Regions from separate parts of the Homo sapiens genome. Here all the other regions are linked to region 5. The links come from fine-mapping of genetic effects on gene expression. A gene starts in region 5. Each other region holds a variant in brackets. All regions are shown on one strand. Distances are from middle to middle.

Region 1 (4,122 bases), 84 kb after region 5:
TGTTAGAAGGTTCAAGTTAGCCTTGTGTTTCACCACTTACCTACAGTGCTGCGCATCTCACCACCTCACCATATGGGCACCATGGGCACCAAATAGAAATTATAATCGTCATCATCGTCAAATGAGGGTTATCAAGAGAGAAAAGCGACAGTTTATGCTTCTTTTTTTTTAATTTTTAAATTTTTTGTAAAGACAGGATTCACTATTTTGCCCAGGCTCGTCTCGAACTCGCAGCCTCAAGCAGTCCTCTTATCTTGGCCTCCCAAAGTATTGGGATCATAGGTGTGAGCCACTGTGCTCAGCCAGAAGAGCCAGAGTTTTGATGCGTCTTAATGTACTCTTTCAGGTCATTAAATGAAAGTCATCTGCAAGTGTTGATAGAAAATGTGGCTGGGCGTGGTGGCTCATGCCTGTAATTCCAACACTGTGGGAGGCTGAGGCAGGAGGATTTCTTGAGGTCAGGAGCTTGAAATCAGCCTGGACAACATAGACCCCATTTCTATTTTTAAAATAAAAATAAAACAAAAAGTGTTACATTGTTGCTGATGTATACTGTGTAGTTTGCCCTACAGTGGTTGCATCTGTACTGAACATGTACAGTCTTATTTTCCTTGTCATTATTCCCTAGACAACACAGTGTAACAACCATTTACAATATATTAGGTATCATAAGTAATCTAGGGATGATTTAAAGTATGTAGCAGGAGGGTATATGTAGGTTATATGCAAATACTGTGCCATTTTATGTAAAAGACTTGAACATCCTCAGGTTTTGTTATCTACAGAGGGGTGGGGGTACTGAAACCAGTCCCCATCAGATACCAAGGAATGACTATTTTATATACTAACTTGCTGCTTACTGTAATAATGGTATGTGAAAAGTAGATGGGAGAGATAGACTGAATGCAAAAAGATGGAATTTTATAGGCCCCCACAACTAATTAAAATTGAAATAGGAGTCAGGGAGGAGAAAGTGTTCTGGCTCACTAAAATATGTGAAAATGTTAGAAGGGGTTTAGATAACTCAATATGAATTAATGTGATACAGCCTTGAAAACGGCTGAAATCCTAGATTGCATAACAAAAAATGGTTATGTAGACTATGGAGAGTGACATCTTCTTGGAATCTTAAGTTTCTTGGCATAATATGTTAAAAGGGTTAGAGAAAAACTAGAGCTCGTTCATAGCAGAGTGACCAGAATGGTAATAGGGATAGAAACCATGCCATATAGAAGATATTGAGGCCAGGTGCAGTGGCTCACGCCTGTAATCCCAGCACTCTGGGAGGCTGAAGTGGGGGGATCACTTGAGGTCAGAAGTTCAAGACCATCCTGGCCAACATAGTGAAACCCTGTCTCTGCTAAAAACAAAAATTAGCTGGGCATGGTGGCGTGTGCCTGTAGCCTCAGCTAGCTGGGAGGCTGAGGTAGGAGAATCGCTTGAACCTGGGAGGCGGAGGTTGCAGCTGAGATTGCACCATTGCACTCCAGCCTGGGCAACAGAACGAGACACTGTCTCAAAAAAAAAAAAAAAAAAAAAAAGAAGGAAAGGTACTGGGAGACTTTGCGTGCTTCAGAAGTATTCCAAGTGCTAAGAAACAGTCTGGCTGTGCAAAAGTCCTGTGGAGTTTTTTCTTGCCCCGTCTCCCTGATTTTGTTTTCTGTTGACCTTTCAACTCCAAAATCAGTAGGCTTTGCTGAGTTGGGGACCTTGAGTTCAGGAGAGTTACTAGTACATGCCTTGTTGTGTATTGATCAGGAGAGAAGATTGGGATAGCCACCTATTTGGAAAATGGTAATCAGACCTTCTTAGGGGCAGAACTACTTCTCAGAGTATAAAAGCCTATAAAGCCTGAGTCAGGAGAACGTCATTTGATGCCAGAGAAGTAAAAGTATGGGGTGAACTTCCCTTGCAGTGAGGACAGAGGTAGTTTTGGTGGTGCTCAGACTATTGGCAGTGCAAGAAGAGCATATCTCCCTTACTGCACTGCTGGCTATAGCAGAGACTATAAAAAAGCAATGGTGTCCTTTCTACAGTAGCCCCAGTCTTTTGTTAACAGCACATACGCATTTCTTCTTTCCTACTTGAGGGATGAAAAAGCCTGAATTTATAGTATACATTTTTGTATACTTGTCTTATTAGAGTATAAATTCTTCAGAGGAAAATATTTTACTTTTTTCTTTAATCCCCATGTTACCCGATAAAGTACCTTGCTGGTATAATTCCTGTGTAAAATCCTCCTGAAGTCTTTTCACGCATCTGGTTACCACAGCACTTCATACATTCCTGTCAGAGCACTTATGTTGCATTATAAATTTTTGGTTTTGTACACCTAATGGAGTGTAAGCCCTTTGAGAATAGGGTGG[A/G]AACTGTCTTACTCAGTTTGATATCCCAAAACCTATTACAGTATCTGGCACTTAGTATCTGATAATCAGTAAATTTATCGGAAATAAATAAATGAGTATAGAAGTATGCGCACATCAAATGCTCCGAATTAAAGGATATCTCCAAAATTACCTTCCTTTTACCGTTGTGTCCCTTTCCCTCTCCCTTGGTCTCCTCATTGTTGATTCTACTACATTAGACCCTTCTGCTTACTTGCTGGTACCTCCATTGTGATACACTGATTTGCTTCCGTCTATCTACAATCTCATCCTGTCCTGTGATATTGAATCTAAGGATATATTTGCTAAAAACCATTATGTTTTACCCTACCTTAGGACTGCCTACATTTACACTGCCTTTATGAGCAACTCAGATACTAATCCTCCACTGAGAAATCACCAAATAGAGAAGTTCACTAATGCTCTGACCACTCTCCTTCTTAGCAATAGTGATATTGGAGGAAGTTTTATGAAGCTTGGGAATCTGCTGAGATGTGTAGGAGCTCTGTCCCATCTAATCCAGCTGGCCAGCTGTACAGCTGTAAATGTTAACCAGTTACATCTTCCAGCTCAATCTGTTGGCAACTAGGAGGATGACTTTTAGGAGAGAAGGAGGGAGGAGTCTCCTCTCAGGTTTCTGACTTGAATGATGAATGGATGGTAAGGACAGCCAAATGTAATAGGGAATAAAGAGAGGGAAGACTATGAGTTTAATTATGAGTATACTGAGTTAGGATGTCCTGAAAGGGCTTCCAAATCAATATATATAGTAAGCATTTAGATTAAAGAATCTAAAACTCAGAGAATATATTAAATTTGACAGTTCTTAAACCACAAGAATGTATGAAATTGCCATGGATATAGCGTTAGAAGTTCATTAAGAACAGAACTCTAGAATATAAATGAAGAAGGAAGCAGACCCATGAAGAGAAGACAGAAAAATAATGATCTGAGAGTAAGAAACGCCAGAGAAGCCCTCCCATCCCCGCAAAAAGCAAAAATAAAACATAGAGGAAAACAAAGAAAATTGAAAAGTTGTACCAATAGTGTCAAATATTACAGAGTAAGATAACTGACTGCCGTTTGAATTTGATCATTAAGCAGTTGTATAATCTCACTGAGAACAATTTCATTGGAACAGGAGGAGGAAAAGCCTCATTGCAGTGTCTTGGGGTTTAAAAGCAAGATGAGAAACTGGAAACATCATGTGTAGGAATTCTCTTAAGATTAAAAGAAAAAAGATAAGATGATAGTTAAATCCTTGTAAAGTCTAGGATCCAGGCCTCCCTCCTAATCCCTTAATGCCTGACCAGTCTCCCAAGAGTGGAACTTAAATAGCCAGAACAAGAAACTAGGACTTTCTTGGAAACATGGGCCATGGCAGGTTCAGGAGATAGTAGCTTTTCTGCCACTTCACATGGGCAATGATATTTATATGCACATCTTCCTCCTATAAGGGTATCCCAGATCATGTGTGCTGCAAACTCCAACTCTTTCTGTTTCCCACTCAAAAACCTGTCTGTAGTATATTTTACAAATGTGTGTATATATATAAACACACACACATATACAGACAAAGTTTGTTTAATAACAGAGTACCTCTGGCCTCCTCTTCACAGTTAATCAGGGGGCGTCAGTGTATTTTGAGACCATGGTTGATCATTTGAACTGAGTAGTAGTTGAGTAAAGTTGCTAATCCATCTAGAGCCTTATCTGAGTGGATCCAGGGTTTCCTATT
Region 2 (4,122 bases), 53 kb after region 5:
ATCCTTAATTTATGAAAATAGATACTTTCCTTTCAATTTCTTTGAGCTCATATACCTATACAAATTGTAGCAGCAGGAAACACATTTGTTTTACTGTTGTAATTGAAGCTCCAAGTGAAGATACCACTTCTTCTCCAACAGTGAAACAAAAATAAATTGAAATTCCAGGTTGCTTTACTATGTTCATCTTTTATTTGGTTATTTTGAGATTTTTTTTGGTAGGGAAATTTCTGAGTTTAGGTTGTTTATTCTAGTAGTAGGATATGAATGTGTAGAAGGTGTGTAGGGGATATGTGGATCCACAAGCTTAGCTGGTGATTGTGAAAACTATAGAAGTTGGTATCTATGAGCGAAAGAGAGTAAATAGTGATAGGTTAATCAGATTTTGAAACTCAAAATAGAAATTAATGATCTTGGGAGTGAAAATGTGTGTTCAATCCAGCTTTTTATAAAATGTAAATCTTGAAAGTATTTAGATAAGTGGCATCTTACCTATTCTTTTTTCAGAGTTTTTCTCTACCCTATCAATAATTGACCTTGCCTAGGCAACAAGTGACATGTCATTGGTATTTCTTTTGATTACGTGATAAAAATGGTTATTGCTTCTAATTAATTTCACTATTACTACTTTTATAGGATTATGTTTGTAATGTTTATTGTGTTTTTAGAGAAATGAGCTTAATATTTTACAATGCTAAAAAATAGCAAAAATTTGTGAAATAGCAATGTTAACTAAAGCAGTAAGTAAAAGAGAACTTAAGCAAAGCATATTATTAATCTAAAGCCATAACTAAAAAATCAAATTGCACTGCAGGCCTCTCTACTCCCTAGTTCTGTCAGAGCCACACTGGATGATTTACACGGGAAACTTCTATACAGTATTTAATTTAGTCAGAAAAACTTATGGCTAAAGGATGCTTTAAAACCACAATTCTAAAACTTATTTGTCTTTTTTTTTTTTGAGATGGAGTTTTGCTCTTTTGCCCAGGCTAGAGTGAAGTGGCGCGATCTCAGCCCACTGCAACCTCTTCCCCACTGGGTTCAAGCGATTCTCCTGCCTCAGCCTCCCAAGTAGCTGGGATTACAGGTGCCCGCCACCACGTGTGGCTAATTTTTGTACTTTTAGTAGAGATGGGTGTTTTGTCGTGTTGCCCAGGCTGGTCTCGACCTCCAGACCTCAGGTGATCCACCTGCCTCAGCCTTCCAAAGTGCTGGGATTACAGACGTGAGCCACCGAGCGCAGCCTCTTATTTGTCTTTTGAAGGTATAACTTTAAAAAAGTATAAATGCATCCTCATATATATAAGTCATTAAGGATTTTTTGGTAATCTTTGTGATTTCTTAGTAAAATAAAATGGAGAGTAAGGAAATAGAGGAATTTAGGGATGGAGAAGAGAAAGATGTAAAAATAAGTTTGTGCTAATGGGGCCAAATTTTATATAGGTCAAATAGCATTTTTTAGTACAAATATAAAGACTTTTCAGTCACACACTGTGGTTGAATGTCTTTAAGTATCCTATTAAATTAGGACCATGACTTGTATAAAATAATTGGATATTTTTTCCTCAATATAGTATCAGGAATATTACGTGCTTCTGATTTTAGGAAAGAAAAACAAATCAGAAGTGTCGAAGAAGAAATTGAACAGGAAAAACAAGCAACAGATGACATTATCAAAAATATGTCTTTTGAAAACCAAGTCAAGTACCTAGAGATGAAAACCACAAATGAGAAACTGTTACAGGTAATACAAATTACTGCTGTGTGCCAAGCATGTATCATTCTTGCTACTAAAAGTATAGTTTGAATATCAGCAGCATCAGCATCCCCTGAGAACTTGACTATACTTTGAGATCAGTTTTCATTTTAACAAGGTCCCCATCTGATTCATA[C/T]GTATATTCACATTTCAGAAGAATTTATTTAGAAAACTTCATTTTCATCTGCTGTTTGATGACCTAGCTTTTACTCTTATTATTTTTGGTTTACTTCTATTTATTCATTTTGCATTTCATAAAGACATGAAAATACTCGCATTTATAAAAATACTTGTCTATAAATATTTGCATTTATAAAAGTACTTTTCTATAAATGTTTGCATTGATAAAAATACTTGTCTGTAAATTAAAAAGTCTGTAAATACTTGCAGTTACAGACTTTTAATGCAAACATTAAAAGGCCTCATAGGTGGAGGTTGCAGTAGTGAGCTGAGATTGCACCACTGCATTCCAGCCTGGGCAACAGAGCGAGACTCTGTCTCAAAAAAAAAAAGGCCTCATAGACCAGATCCATATATATATTTACTTTCCTTTTCCTTCCTGCTTAATAAACAGCTAACCTTTTTACCTGTTAGCATTATGATTTGAATGGCTATTGTCCTGTAATTATATTGCCTAAATTTCCATTTTTAAAAATTAATTTTTTTATTGATACACAATTGTACATATTTATGGGGTACATGTGATATTTCCATGCACGTATGCAATGTATAATGATCAAATCGGGATAATTAGGATATTCATCACCTCAAACATTTGGCATTTTTTTTGTGCTGGAAACATTTTTTTTTTTTTAATTTAAAAAAAATTTTTTTTTTGAGACGGAGTCTCGCTCTGTCGCCCAGGCTGGAGTGCAGTGCCCATCTCGGCTCACTGCAAGCTACGCCTCCCGGGTTCATGCCATTCTCCTGCCTCAGCCTCCCAAGTAGTTGGCACTACAGGCGCCCGCCACCACGCCCGGCTGATTTTTTGTATTTTTTTAGTAGGGACGGGGTTTCACCGTGTTAGTCAGGATGGTCTTGATCGCCTGACCTCGTGATCCGCCTGCCTCGGCCTCCCAAAGTGCTGGTATTACAGGCATGAGCCACCGCGCCCGGCCTTATGCTAGAAACATTTTGAATCTCCTTTTCTGGCTATTTTGAAACATACAATTAATTACTGATAACTATAGCCACCCTAGTGTTCTATCAAACATGAGAATTTATTCCTTCTCTCCCCCACACCACCCCATGCCCCCAACTGGGCACCACCTTCTCAGCCTCTGGTAACCATCATTCTACTACCCCCTTTTTTTTGTTTTTTTTTTTTTGTTTTTTTTGAGACGGAGTTTCGCTCTGTCGCCCGGGCTGGAGTGCAGTGGCGCGATCTCGGCTCACTGGAAGCTCCGCCTCCCAGGTTCATGCCATGCTCCTGCCTCAGCCTCCTGAGTAGCTGGGACCACAGGTGCCCGCCACCACGCCTGGCCAATTTTTTATGTGTTTTTAGTAGAGACAGTGTTTCACCGTGTTAGCCAGGTGATCCGCCCCCCTCGGCTTCCCAAAGTGCTGGTATTACAGGCGTGAGCCACTGTGCCCGGCCGAGATCCACTTTTTTAGGCTCCTACAGATGAGTGAGAACATGCAATATTAAATAAGCAATTTAAGTCCCTGTTGAGGGCATATTGAGAATCCTCTCAATACTCAGTCATGGTGGTTCCCTTTCATGCCCAGATGGCCCTTAACTAAAGATTAAGCAAAGAATTAGGCCCCATAAATGCCAATAATGATTATAGTTTTAGTTTCTTAGACATTCCTTTGCTGACAATTTAGTAACCTTTTTATTTTAGAGAAGATTTCTAAGATACTGTGAAGCGTTGAAGAAAAAGTATGGCCTGGCCAAGATGGTGAAACCCTGTCTCTACTAAAAACACAAAAATTAGCCAGGCATGGTAGCAGGCCCCTGTAATCCCAGCTACTCGGGAGGCTGAGGCAGGTACTTGGTTGATCCCGGGAGGCGGAGGTTGCAGTGAGCCGAGATCATGCCACTGCACTCCAGCCTGGGCAACAGAGCGAGACTCTGTCTCAAAAAGAAAAAAGAAAGAGTATGATAGAAATGCCAAAATAGTACCAAAATATAGTTAATCTTGTATGGGATAATGAATGAGTAAACAGTTTAAGGATCTTATCTTAGGAGTGAACCATATTTATATTTACATATACGTGTATGTATGTGTACATGTGAACCATATTTATATTTACATATATGTGTATGTATGTGTGCATGTGTTATATGTGTGTGTACACAGTATAGAGAAATTAGGCAAAAGATGTGAAAACACGGTTACAAATCAAAATTTTAAATAATAATC
Region 3 (4,109 bases), 110 kb after region 5:
ACTCCAGCCTGGGCGACAGAGCAAGACTCCATCTCAAAAAAAAAAAAAAAAAAAAAAAAAAAAAAGCTGAAAATGAAATTGACTGAGTTATTTTTTTCTAGGAATTTTTTTAAAGACTCAAATTTAGTTCAACACCTACTTATTAAATACCAGATATGTACAAAACCCTGGGCCAAATTAAATGAATATGACTGTTTCAATTCTACAGTAGTTAAGAGGTGTGTGTGTGTGTGTGTGTGTGTGCGCACGCACGTGCCCTCAAGTAACTAATAGAAAGCAGATTTTGGGAGTTGCCAAAAAAGGAGTACAAAGACTTAATGTGGCATAGTGATTAAGTGCCCAGATTTTGGAGTTGGGCGATCCAATTTTAAATGTCAACTCTACTGCTTGTAAGTTACAAACTGGACAATTTAATCTGTTCAAGCTAGAACTGTATCATCTCTTAAGATTCAGTTTTCCGGGATCACAGGGCTTGGGTAAAGTTAAACATTATCAGTAAATCTTCTGATAAACATGGCAAGAATTTCTCTTTTGTTTAGAGACAGGGGTCTCGCCAACTTAGCCAGGCTGGTCTCAAACTCCTAGGCTCAATCCCACCTCGGCCTGCTCAAGTGCTGGGATTAGAGACATGAGCCACTGCTCTCGGCCCCAGAATTGTATCATCTCTAAAATCTCTAAAATATAGTTAATATTACCTTCTCATAGTGTTGGGAGAATTATATATAACCATATAGTTATATATATCCACAAGTATATATATATATATATATGTACATAATATATAATATATAGTTGTTTGTTGTTTATATGGTTCTACCTTGAATATCTGGGCAGCAAAGGGAGGTAAACTAAGTAAGATCCTGAGAAGTTTGACTTCCAAGCTCATCCATGTTTTAGCCATTTCAACTCCATTATATGTCTACAAAGATGATACTTATGTCTCATCTTATTGTTTACTTTTAGTTTGATTACAGGAGGCAGCAAGCAGCTGTTGAGAACATGTGTTGTGAAGTTGTAACAGATATTTCCTTAAAAGTTGTTTCCTATTCCCTTCTTTGACCCATTCAAGGATGTCTCTGCCTGGAGAACTAGATCCTGACTCAGTGGCAGCATAGGTTCTCCCCCAGGGTGGTGCTGAACTTCAGCTCAGAAGCAGCCTGGACCCCATCTTACCTCCAGATAAGGTGTTTTAGGTACTCTGTTGCCAGTGTTAGTGCAACTTAGTTTAAAAATAGAGGACTTGTTCACAGTATGCTCTAAGTCTCACACTGGAGTTTTGTGCAACATAAAGTAGGTGATTTTGGAGCAGAGCGAAGTCTAGAAATTTGCCTTAAATTATTTGTGGTACTCTAGAGAACGTGGTATGTGTATGTGTGTATGTGTGTTTGAATATAGGAACTAGTTCATTGAACGTTAGATTGTTCTAAGACCAGAATTAGATTAAAAATGCATAACATATTAAGTATTAAAAAGTGTTTATATTGTATATGAATTTTTTGCGGTAAGTTTAGCTTGGCATTTTAGGTTTTAATTGATGCTTAATCTGTTAAAATGATGTACTGTATTTTAAAGTATTCTAATTGTGCTTTTTTGTACCATCTTCAGTATGAAAAATGTCAGTATTTAGTTCCTTTCTCAGGCACAATTAGATTTTTATTGACATTGTTTTCCCCCTTAACTCATGTAATTAGTCATAGCAACCAAGAGTCAAGAGAGTGATTACCAGCCAATTAAGAAAAATGTGACCAAGCAGATTGCAGAGTACAATAAAACCATCGTGGATGCTTTACATAGCA[C/T]CAGCGGAAACTGAGTTTAAGTCCACTGAAAGTCTCTAAGGAAGTATCCTCTTGCTGCTAAACTTGGTACAAGTTGACTACCAAAAAAAAAAAAAGCTTACTTTTGGAGTTTACCTAAAATTTCTGAATGTTATAATTTTTGTGGCCTCTTTTAAGAATGATATTTTAAAATAGTAAATAGTTCAATAAATGGTTTGCATATTAAAAAGTACCATCTTCTTTTCTTTTTATGCTACTTGTATTTGAACCAAGAGATAAAGAAACTAAAAGTGACCGTTGAAATTTATTTAGCTGGTATAATCCATCTATGGCAACAAATGAGATAAGCTTTTCTTGTATCAACTCTAGGACGGATGCATGGAGTATGATTCTGATTTAGCACTTAGATCAACCTTGTCAATTTTTACTTCTAGAAAAAATTAGTAAGATTAGAAGGGAGATTTTTAGCTTTGAATGTTACTTCTCAAATAGGTTATATTTGATGTGTATTAGACCATATAATGTCACAGGTAAATATATAACATATATTCTTTATATAGCAGTTATACCTAAAGATTTGGAATTAGAAACTTTTAATCTTTGCAATTCTTAAAATATTTTTTCACATATATATACCTGGAAGAACATTAGGTAAAAGACTACATTTATAGTGGGCTGTTTTGGACTATGGCTACTGCTGTTCATTGCCACCCTGCAGTATGCATTTACTCTCTTGTACTATTAGGAGAACTTAAGTAGATTAATTTATAAACATTAGCCAGAATATTTGGGGAAAAAAGCTAGAAGAGGTAGGATTGGGAGAGAGGCATAGAGTCTGGAAGACATTATATTAACTGTAGATGTATCTTCTCTTATCGTGCAGGAATGAGTCACCTTGGCCAGCATAAAATATTACTTAAAACTATCCTGTTTTTGCTCTGATATCATGTTCACTAAGTAACTCTACTTTTCAGTATTTCTGAAACAACACATTGATTTCTTAAACCAAAATAGCTTTATTGAGATATTATTTACATACTTTAAAATTTACTCATATATGTTGATTTTTAAAAATAAATATTTATAATGGTAAATTATTCAAATTCAGTCTATATACATTTAAATAAAGGAGTGAGCATTGTTGAGTTTGCTGAACTCTGGATTACTAATATGGCTGAAGATCCTGGACATTCATTAAGGTAGCATTCATAAAATGTGTTCCATAAATCCTGAGCATCTTGAGTTATTAATAGTGTTATGCCTCCAAAGGATTCATGGTCAAAGAAGTTTGGGAAACGTTGTCTGAAACAAAGGTGAATTATTTTATTTTTTCTTGACTGCTCATAACCCTTAATATGCTAATGTATAATAAGCTCAAGAAGAATATATACTGTAAAGCATTTCCCAGAGATAGTTGTCCACAAAACCCTAACTTTCACAGAGCCTAGGTCACATGAGATGTGTCATTCCAAGAAATAGACTTTGTACACCAAATAGACTTCATACACTAAAATAATTTCATCTACTCAAGTCCTCTGGGTGGCTCTATGGCCTTTTTCAGATGACTCCTGAGTATGTCTCTTTTTAGCCACCCTCAGCTGTTTTATGCTGTGATTGTATGGGGTTTTCTATTGGAAATTGGTAGCAGAAAGTGCTTATAAAATTTCACAAGGGAAAAAAACTCTTTTAGCAGTTAAAGAGAATGAAATCTGAAATTCAGTAGATAAAACAGGTAATAGATTTTGATGACAGTTTGCAGCCCTTCGTTCATTCATAAAGTATTACTGTAATTTGGTGATTAGGAGCCTTTATGGATATACCCGACTGCTGAAAAACATTCATCTTTTATACAGTAACAAACAGAGGTATGATTGAGCATAGAGTTTAGGCAAGAGAACTGACTACTATGGTCTCTTAATCACATTGATTCTATTTCGTGGATACTTCCAAGGAGGAAGGGAATCTGGAAAACATGTTTGTGGATAGGTAATCTTTGTTTTCCTCATTTGAAAGCAAATTTAAATGCCTTTACTTTTTCCTTAGGTTTTTTTTTATGATTTCTACTTAAGTGTTCTTGACATTTTACTGCACCCTTTTAAATAACCAACTTAGTAATTTTTACTATTAGTAATAAGGGTTTTTTTCTGAGTGGTGGGATTATGGGTGATTGTAATCTTCCTTGGGCTTTTTGGTATTTTCAAAATTGTCTGTGATGTACATTTAATACTTAGAAATGCAATAAAATTCAAATAAAGTACTATATGCAGTTACTACTTTAACTGACAGAAAGGATGTAGTAAAAACTCTTAAGTCCTTGACTCTAGAACTGAACCA
Region 4 (4,122 bases), 27 kb before region 5:
CATATATGAAGATAACACTGCTGACTGACCATCAGTAAGGCTTATGTTTAGAAGTTTCAGGCTAAAAGTATTAAAATGACAACCAAAAATATAACTATATACCAAAAATTACATACATATATGCAGAAGCACATATGCATATTATATATAGCTTATCAGACAGCTATTTATCAGTCTACATTTGGCTGTTTTATGAGAGGTTTCATTATCTTTTTAAATGTATTAGATATTAACTCATCAGAAAAATTACATTAACTCAAATTAATAGCTTAAATATACTAATGTTTTTCAAATATTTTCATGCTTGTAAACTTCTGAGAAAAAAAATCTGAGCAAATAAAAAGCAATGATATTATAAAACTTGTCTACCCTGATCTTACCTGAAAAAGTCCTCTCACATCTTCCAGCCTTCCACAGTTTAACAGTCTTGTCTGCTGATCCAGTCAACATTAAGCCCTGTTCAGGTAAGATCTTTACCGCCCACACTGCAGCTGTATGACCCTGTGAGTAAAATGAGTATCAATTTAAGTTGCCACAGAATCATTCAACTTAATTATTCTTTAGAATATTTACACAGAACTACTGTACCTGCAAGGTCATCATGCACTTGTCATTCAGCCAGACTTTAGCAGTGGTGTCCCATGAACCACTAAGTAATGTCCCAAATTTTCCAGATGATAGACTACAAACTAAGGAAAAAACATCATTGGATAACACATTTTCATACAGAAAAATGCTCAACATTGAAAGTTACTAAAGCATTCCAATTTTAAAAACACTCTTTGAAGTGGCAGTATCTTAGCTAACTAAGGCTCAATTCAGCAGAGACGCATAAGAGTACAGTGGTCAAGAGCAGACTCTGGTGCCAGACTGCCTGGGCGCAAGGCCTAGCTGTGCCACTTACAAGCCACGTAACTGCAGAAATATTACTCAAAATCAGATTCCTTGTCTGTGAAACGAGGGAGCGGAACTTAAGTGAGCTACACAATCCTTCCAGCTTTAACAAATCATAATAGGGAGATAATGTAAATGATTTTGAAACACTGTTTATATAAATATTTAAGGCTGCTTTCATGACAGTGACCATAAAACCTGCAGCCAAGCTCAATGTCCAAAAGTAATGAAGTGGTTAATTAAATGTCTTACTTTCTTGATGTGAAATTATGCAGGCTAAAAATTACAAATATGAAAAATTATGCCAGGCACAGTGGCTCACACCTGTAATCCCTGCACTTTGGGAGGCCAAGGCAGGCGGATTGCTTGAGCTCAGGAGTTAGAGACCGGCCTGGGCAATGTGGAGAGACCTCATCTCTACTAAAAATACAAAAAAATAGCTGGGTGTGGCGGTATGCGCCTGTGTTCCCAGCTACTTGGAAGGCTGAGGTGGGAGGATTGCTTGAGCCCAGGGCACAGAGGTTGCAGTGAGCTGTGATCATATACCACTGCACTTCACGCCTGGGTGACACAGCAAGATTCTGTCTTTAAAAAAAAAGAAAGAAAAGAAAAATTAGCCAGGTGGAGTGGCTCATGCCTGTAATCCTAGCATTTTGAACTGAGCTCAGGAGTTTGAGACCAGCCTGGGGCAATATAGTGAGACTCCAGCTCTAAAACAAAAATTTTAAATTAGTCAGACATGGTGTCACGCGCCTGTCGTCCCAGTAAGAGAATTGCTTGAGCATGGGAGGCCAAGGCTGCAGTGAGCTGTGAGAGCAGCACTGCATTCTGGTATGACCAAGAAAGTGAGACCCTCTCTCAAAAGATAAAAGAAAAAAAAAGAAAAATTATCTTAGGAAAGAAGAGTATCATTGGCGGTCGAAGCACAGCCATAAAGAACCTTGGATTGGGAAACCTTTTTCCTAGACCAGAAGGAAGCAATCACAAAAGTCTCTCTACCCTGAGCTGAGGATCCTTGAGACAGCTACTTATTTGGATTTCAGAATGGCTCTAGATCAAAAACTGTTGTCTTGCACTGCTTCCTCTTCTGAATGAGTGTTTGCTCTGATTATCCTATTCCTTTTCCATAATTGTATATTGGGTATGGTTGACAGCTTACTTATAAGCATCACCTCTCTGATGTTTAGAATACTTAGCATCACTCAGAGGAGACTTTTGGATTGTTTGATGAAGCTGAATCGTTGATGACCAGAAAGCATGCTGTGGTAACTCTCCCTTTTTGGACACATGGGAGAATGGTACTTTCCTCCTCCATTTGAAGTTAGGCATAGCCATGATACTTGCATTAGTCACCAGACAAAACGGTAGCTGACACTTTCAGTCACACA[CAT/C]GTTTTTGGTGTTTTTTTAAAATTGATTTTTTTAATTCTCTACTACTGTGACATTCAAGGAAGGCACATGCTTTTAAAAGCCAGTGCCTTATTATTATTATTATTTTTTTTTTTTTTTTGAGACAGAGTCTCGCTCTGTCGCCCAGGCTGGAGTGCAGCTGTGTGATCTCGGCTCACCGCAAGCTCTGCCTCCCGGGTTCACGCCATTCTCCTGCCTCAGCCTCCCGAGTGGCTGGGACCACAGGCGCCCGCCACCACGCCCAGCTAATTTTTTTGTATTTTAGTAGAGATGGGGTTTCACCGTGTTAGCTAGGATGGTCTCGATCTCCTGACCTTATGATCCGCCCGCCTTGGCCTCCCAAGTGCTGGGATTACAGGCATGAGCCACTTCGCCCAGCCAACCAGTGCCTTATTAACCATGTTGCCCTTTGACTGCTCCAACAACTACTGAAGCATGTGTGGAGAGAAAGCCCCATTAGCCTGGGTCCCTGAGAAAATCTGATGAACAGAGTCCCTTTATTAATCCATGTTGAACATGTAGGGTTAATGAGAAATACTCATATGTTACATCACTGAGATTTTTTTTTTTTTTTTTGAGATGGGAGTTTTGCTCTTGTTGCCCAGGCTGGAGTGCAATGGTGCAATCTTGGCTCACTGCAACCTCCGCTTCCGAGGCACAAGTGATTCTCCTGCCTCAACCTCCCACGTAGCTTGGATTACATGCATGCGCCACCATGCCCGGCTAATTTTTTTGTATTTAGTAGAGACAGGGTTTCACCATGTCAGTCAGGCTGGTCGTGAACTCCTGACTTCAAGTGATCCACCCACCTCGGCCTCCCAAAGTGCTGGGATTACAGGCATGCACCACCATGCCCAGTCTGAGATCTTAATAGTTGTAACTTGGGTGCTCTTTACATTCTTCCACAAATCAGTATGATATAATTGGATAAAATACCATTTCCCAGTAAAAGAAAAAAAAAAACAGGACTTCTTGGCAAAAGTGCTGGTTTGAGGTCTAGAGCAAGAAGTGTACAAACTGAACCTAGAACATTCTGTAATAAAGCAAGGAAGACTACTGAAGGTCTTATAAAAAGGTGACAGGAGCCAATTTAAAGAGGTTTCCAATGGCCAGATATGGAACAATTTGAGAACTGAAAAAAAAAAAAAAAATTCAGGAAACAACTCCTTCTGCAAACCAGTAAATAAATTGGGAGAAGGGTCAAGGAAAGCATTTATTCTGTCTTTTCTGTATAGAAGTCCCACATGGTAACCAGTTGATGTGGAAAGATCTATACAGAAAAGTCTTGGCGATCAAATGCAGAAATAATATTAGAATTACAGTACAATCATTTTGTAAACCTTAATAAAATATTGAATCTAGGCAATGATTATCAGTAGCTGCTAAAAATTACCATTATGTGAAAGGCTGATGGGAACTTTATAATGAAAGAAAGATACAACACTTGAACCCACTGATCAATCTTAATATCACAAAAAGATATTGTGTGCTTCCTGATGTGATACAATAGAAAATACAGAATACCACCTATACTGTTGCCAAAAACTTGAATCTGAACCTGATAAAGCTACTAGATCTATTTAACAGCTTACAAGAAATATAGGTGACTGAAGAACACATTAAAGGAAACAAGGCTTTAACCAGTAAAACTGAGATTGTGGGAAATTCTACAGCTAAAATAATCTGGTTTTAAGCAACAAGAAAAAAAGAAAGAAACTGACAGATTGAAAGATGTAGGGCTGGGCACGGTGGCTCATGCCTGTAATCCCACCACTTTGGAAGGCCGAGGCAGGCAGATCACCAGAGTTTAGGAGTTATA
Region 5 (4,122 bases):
AAAGCAACAGAACCTAATACATAATGATCCAAAGTCAAATAAGATATGGTGCCTACTCTAAGGAAGCTCAGAGGCAAATAAGTGAGATGTATTCCTATTCTCTATTCCTTTTTCATCATGAAAAAGAAATGGGGACAGGGATCAATACTTACTACCTAAATGAGCTTAAGCAAATTATTTAATCTCTTTAAAACTTGGATAATAGTATCTGTCCTGCCAATTTCAACTGTTAATATCTGTCAGGGTCCTTAAGTGCAAGGAACAGAAATCATCTATAAATGATATAAAAGCTGAAAATGAATTTATTAAAGGACATTAAGCAGCTCACAGACTCTCCCAGAAGCTGAAGAAACAAGCTAGAGGTTCTCCTCCCAATAAAGCCTCTGAGTACCTAACACTGCAGCTTGCAACAACACACTGATGCTGGACACTGGTTGCTGGTGATAGAACATTGCAGTCTCGGAAACGATGTAGTTACTGCGGCTGTCACCCTTACTTCAACAGACTCTCTGAAGTCCTGCTTCTGGTTGTCATTCAAGTTTGAGTTGAGTCCACCAAATTAGATTGGAGAGTCTAGCAAGCAATAATACTCATGTCCCAGTAATAAGGAAGACTAGGAAAGCCAGTATCTGTCACTTTCAGTTCCTGTAAGGGTGTTGGGGGGCAGGGTAAGGGAGAAACTCTGCCAAAAGGATGACAAATGGCCACTGCAAATAGGGTGAGCTCAAATGAGATAATTACATGAAAATGTTTCACAAACTAAGGGAGAATTCAGCCACATAACATTATCTCATTTTGTGTTGTATTGATTTTTAACTCCTCGAAGGCAGGCAAGTTGGAAATAATGTGTAAAATAATGTTAAAATCCCAATACATATGCAATCACATTTAAGCTGTTATCAATGAAGATTGGAAGGAAACATACAGTAAAAGTTATTTTATTAGAGAAGTGGGATTTAAGGTGAAGTAGTTCTTAAATTAAAAAAAAAAAAAAAAAGGACACTTTCCATTGAATTCACAGTCTTCCCCACAAACTTGGATCCAAATTCTAATGAAAGGAAGCTTAAAGACGCAAAGCTTCTGGTGAAAGCAGGAACGGAACAGTTGGTGCCAGAATCGCATCCATACTTCATGATGCGTTGTGTACGCTATGCCGTCCTAATAGGAAGGAAAACTACCACAAATTAGGAGTTTAGAAAATTGCACAATGCTGCCTACCACTTAACTTCAAATGTAACCTGTTAACAACGTTAGCCGACGTGAGGTTACCTAGGGACATAGCAAAACTCGCTAGAGTTACTTCAAGTAAGGCACACGGAGGTTGCTCTGATTATCAAGAAAACCAAACGTTCACATAAAATGTTTGTCTTCCAGCCGCCCCGCTGTTTTCCACTTTTTCCAAAAAGCACTGAAGCGTGGTGAAGAAACAAACATATCCTCAATTCTCGCGAGAGCTCCGTGTGTAACCAAGGGCTGAGGCGGAGGATTGGTCACTCAGGATGAGGAGCCTCCGCTATCCCGCCCCCGTTGCCGGGATACGCCGCGGCGCACGGCAGTTAGTGGGTAGGCCTGAGAGCCGAGGAAAACTGAGCGTGGGCCTCAGAAAGAAGTTAAGGCACCCGCGAGCCGGGCAACTGCCCTCCTTCCGCGCCGGCGGAGGTGAGAATCCCCGGGTCCCATCTCTTCCTCCCTCCCTCCCACGTCTGTTCTCTTGCCTTGGAGATGCTGATCCGCTCCAAACAAAACAAATTCAAACTCGGTCTTAGCTAACTGTTACCGTCGGGCCTGTAGCCAGGCCAGGCATGTACCAATTCTAGTCGAGCGAAGGTTGCGAACAGACCTCCTCCAACAGCCCGACCCCTCCCCGACCCCCCGCAGGAGACCCGCCAAGCACAGAGCAGAGGGAAGGACCGCGATGGGCTGAAGGATTTTAGTCAAAGCAATACATTTCTGCCTCTTACAGTGGAAGGGACTTATTTCTGTCTGTTGATCACAGTGCGGGCAGTTAGCAACTTTCCACTTATTCACCTGTGTGAGAATGGTTGGCTTAGGGAGGATAACGATAGTAATAATAATTAGAAGCAGATGTTTTAAATGTAATACTTATCGTCTTCACAACAGCCCTGCAAGGTAGATGTCACCCTTCTGTTTTACAGAAGATGAAATCCTGAGGGGTTAATTAAGGTGGCAAGATTATGCAGCCGCTAACTTTGTCAGCACTAGTTTGTATCGCTAATCATTCTGGATCCAAAGGCCAGGCTGCCTCTCTGTGTGAATAATTGGAAATTGTGTGACTCTTTGATTGAATAACCCCGAAGTTAGTGGTATATTTGTTGCTAATGCCCGCCTCTTAATCCCACTGGTAATAATATAATGGTAAGCTTTTTTTCACCACAGTAAAACGGTGGCAAAGAAAATTGGGTGAAATTTTTTATGTTGTACATTTTCTCAAAGTTAGCAGGAAACCTAGAGTAATATCTTTTCCACTGGAAAGAGATGTTTATTGTACTCGTTTTCTTCTGGAAAAACCATTTTGATCATACACCGTCTTCCTTTTCAAAGAGTCATTTCATGAAATTCCTTTTTCCATTTGAAATTCTTTTGCTTTGTACATAGAGTTCAAAATGGCAAGGAATTAGAATCAGGGAGCTAGTGGGGTCAGGAAGATTGATGTGAACATATTCAAATGAGATATCTGAATGGAAATTTCAGATAAACAATTGAAAACTCAAAATTGGTGCCCAGTTGAAAGGGCAGAACTGTAGACATTGATTAGTGAGCCGTACACATAGTTGGAGTTATAAAGATGCATGACTGTAGAAAGGATAGAAGCAGTCCAAGGACTGATTACGAGTAATGCTAAGAAAAGTCAGAAAAGTAGTACTGGACATAGAGTGTAGAAACAGAGAAATCATTTTAGTCCAACACACGCTTTGTTTGCCTTTTTTTTTTTTGAGACGGAGTCTTGCTCAGTCGCCCAGGCTGGAGTGCAGTGGCGCGATCTCGGCTCACTGCAAGCTCCGCCTCCTGGGACTACGCCCGCCACCACGCCCGGATAATTTTTTTTTTGTATTTTTAGTAGAGATAGGGTTTCACTATGTTAGCCAGGATGGTCTCCATCTCCTGATCTCGTGATCCACCCGCCTCGGCCTCCCAAAGTTCTGGGATTACAGGCGTGAGCCACCGCTCCCGGTCGCTTTGTTTGCTTTTTAACAATTTAGTAAATTTTTGTAATTGGCAATACCTTTATGTACGAGGAAATTTAAAAGATACAAGAGAGAACAAAGTTTTTGCTTATCACTGAGACAGATTTTGGGGATATAAAGATGATTAAGATTCAGCTCTTGCCATAAAGGGTGAGAAATACTTAAGCAGATCATTTCAAGTGGTGTGATAGGTTCTGGAATAAAGTAATACACAGGATGCATGGTAGCATGTAGAACAGGCCTATACACTGAAATTGAAGAAGACGAAGATTCCAAGACCAGTTATGGACTGGTCATGGAAGGATTCCCAGAGAAAGTAATAGGCAAAATGTGTGTTAGGCAAGGGGACCACTTAAGAGGCTGGTATAATAGTCCACCTGAGTCAGTGATGCCCTGAATTGGCCAGTGCTGTAGGAATAGAGAGTAAAGTACCTGTTAAACACTTAGGAACAAAATCAGTAGAACTAAACAAAACAAACTCAGTAGAACTATGTGACCAGCCATGGGAGTAAGGGAGAGGAAGATGTCAAGGACTAAATTTCTTACTTGTGTGACTAGGAGGTGACACCAAGAGGAAGGACAAATTTTGAGCAGATGATAATGAGTTTGGATTACATATGTTTATTTTGAAATATTTAGACATCTAAGTGGAGATGTTATTATTTGGATATAAACACCGCAAGCTGAGTGCTAAAATAAGGAAGTTGTGTGGAATCAGTTTATTAATTGTTAAAACCCTGAGTGTGGATAAGGGGGCCCAAGGGGAGTTTAGAGAGAGAAAAGAAAAAGATGGTGGATGGTATCTTAGAAAATGCTCTATATAAGGACAGATCAAGGAGACAGAAAAAAGAACCAGAAGAGAGGGAAGTGTCATGGAGATGTTTCATATAAATGTGGACACCAGTAAAGTAGGATG

The links. PIP is the estimated chance that this variant, and not a neighbour inherited with it, causes the effect. A credible set is the group of variants that fine-mapping cannot tell apart.
Region 1: its variant is the best candidate, but not a certain one, in a credible set for the expression of IFT74 in coronary artery (GTEx, PIP 0.84).
Region 2: its variant is the best candidate, but not a certain one, in a credible set for the expression of IFT74 in whole blood (TOPMed, PIP 0.88).
Region 3: its variant is the best candidate, but not a certain one, in a credible set for the expression of IFT74 in whole blood (INTERVAL, PIP 0.63).
Region 4: its variant is the best candidate, but not a certain one, in a credible set for the expression of IFT74 in whole blood (TOPMed, PIP 0.83).

Annotation. Positions count from the first base shown.
Region 1 is chr9:27,039,027-27,043,148 of GRCh38, forward strand. The region is part of intron 13 of IFT74 (intraflagellar transport 74); the gene reads left to right. Among named protein-coding and RNA genes, the nearest start is that of LRRC19, 35 kb to the left of the region's middle. The variant A/G (reference allele first, on the strand shown) is at 2,367.
Region 2 is chr9:27,007,415-27,011,536 of GRCh38, forward strand. It overlaps IFT74 (intraflagellar transport 74), which reads left to right. Exons shown (of 20, transcript NM_025103.4): 9 at 1,606-1,744. Among named protein-coding and RNA genes, the nearest start is that of LRRC19, 3.8 kb to the left of the region's middle. The variant C/T (reference allele first, on the strand shown) is at 1,893.
Region 3 is chr9:27,060,927-27,065,035 of GRCh38, forward strand. It overlaps IFT74 (intraflagellar transport 74), which reads left to right. Exons shown (of 20, transcript NM_025103.4): 20 at 1,692-4,109. The coding sequence ends at 1,810. Among named protein-coding and RNA genes, the nearest start is that of TEK, 46 kb to the right of the region's middle. The variant C/T (reference allele first, on the strand shown) is at 1,797.
Region 4 is chr9:26,927,720-26,931,841 of GRCh38, forward strand. It overlaps PLAA (phospholipase A2 activating protein), which reads right to left. Exons shown (of 14, transcript NM_001031689.3): 3 at 589-689; 4 at 381-501. Among named protein-coding and RNA genes, the nearest start is that of PLAA, 17 kb to the right of the region's middle. The variant CAT/C (reference allele first, on the strand shown) is at 2,283.
Region 5 is chr9:26,954,858-26,958,979 of GRCh38, forward strand. It overlaps IFT74 (intraflagellar transport 74), which reads left to right and starts at 1,555. Exons shown (of 20, transcript NM_025103.4): 1 at 1,555-1,659. IFT74-AS1 (IFT74 antisense RNA 1) reads right to left here and starts at 1,450. Exons shown (of 2, transcript NR_121605.1): 1 at 1,270-1,450; 2 at 923-1,158. RefSeq lists enhancers at 767-1,502, 1,503-2,237 and a silencer at 2,834-3,128.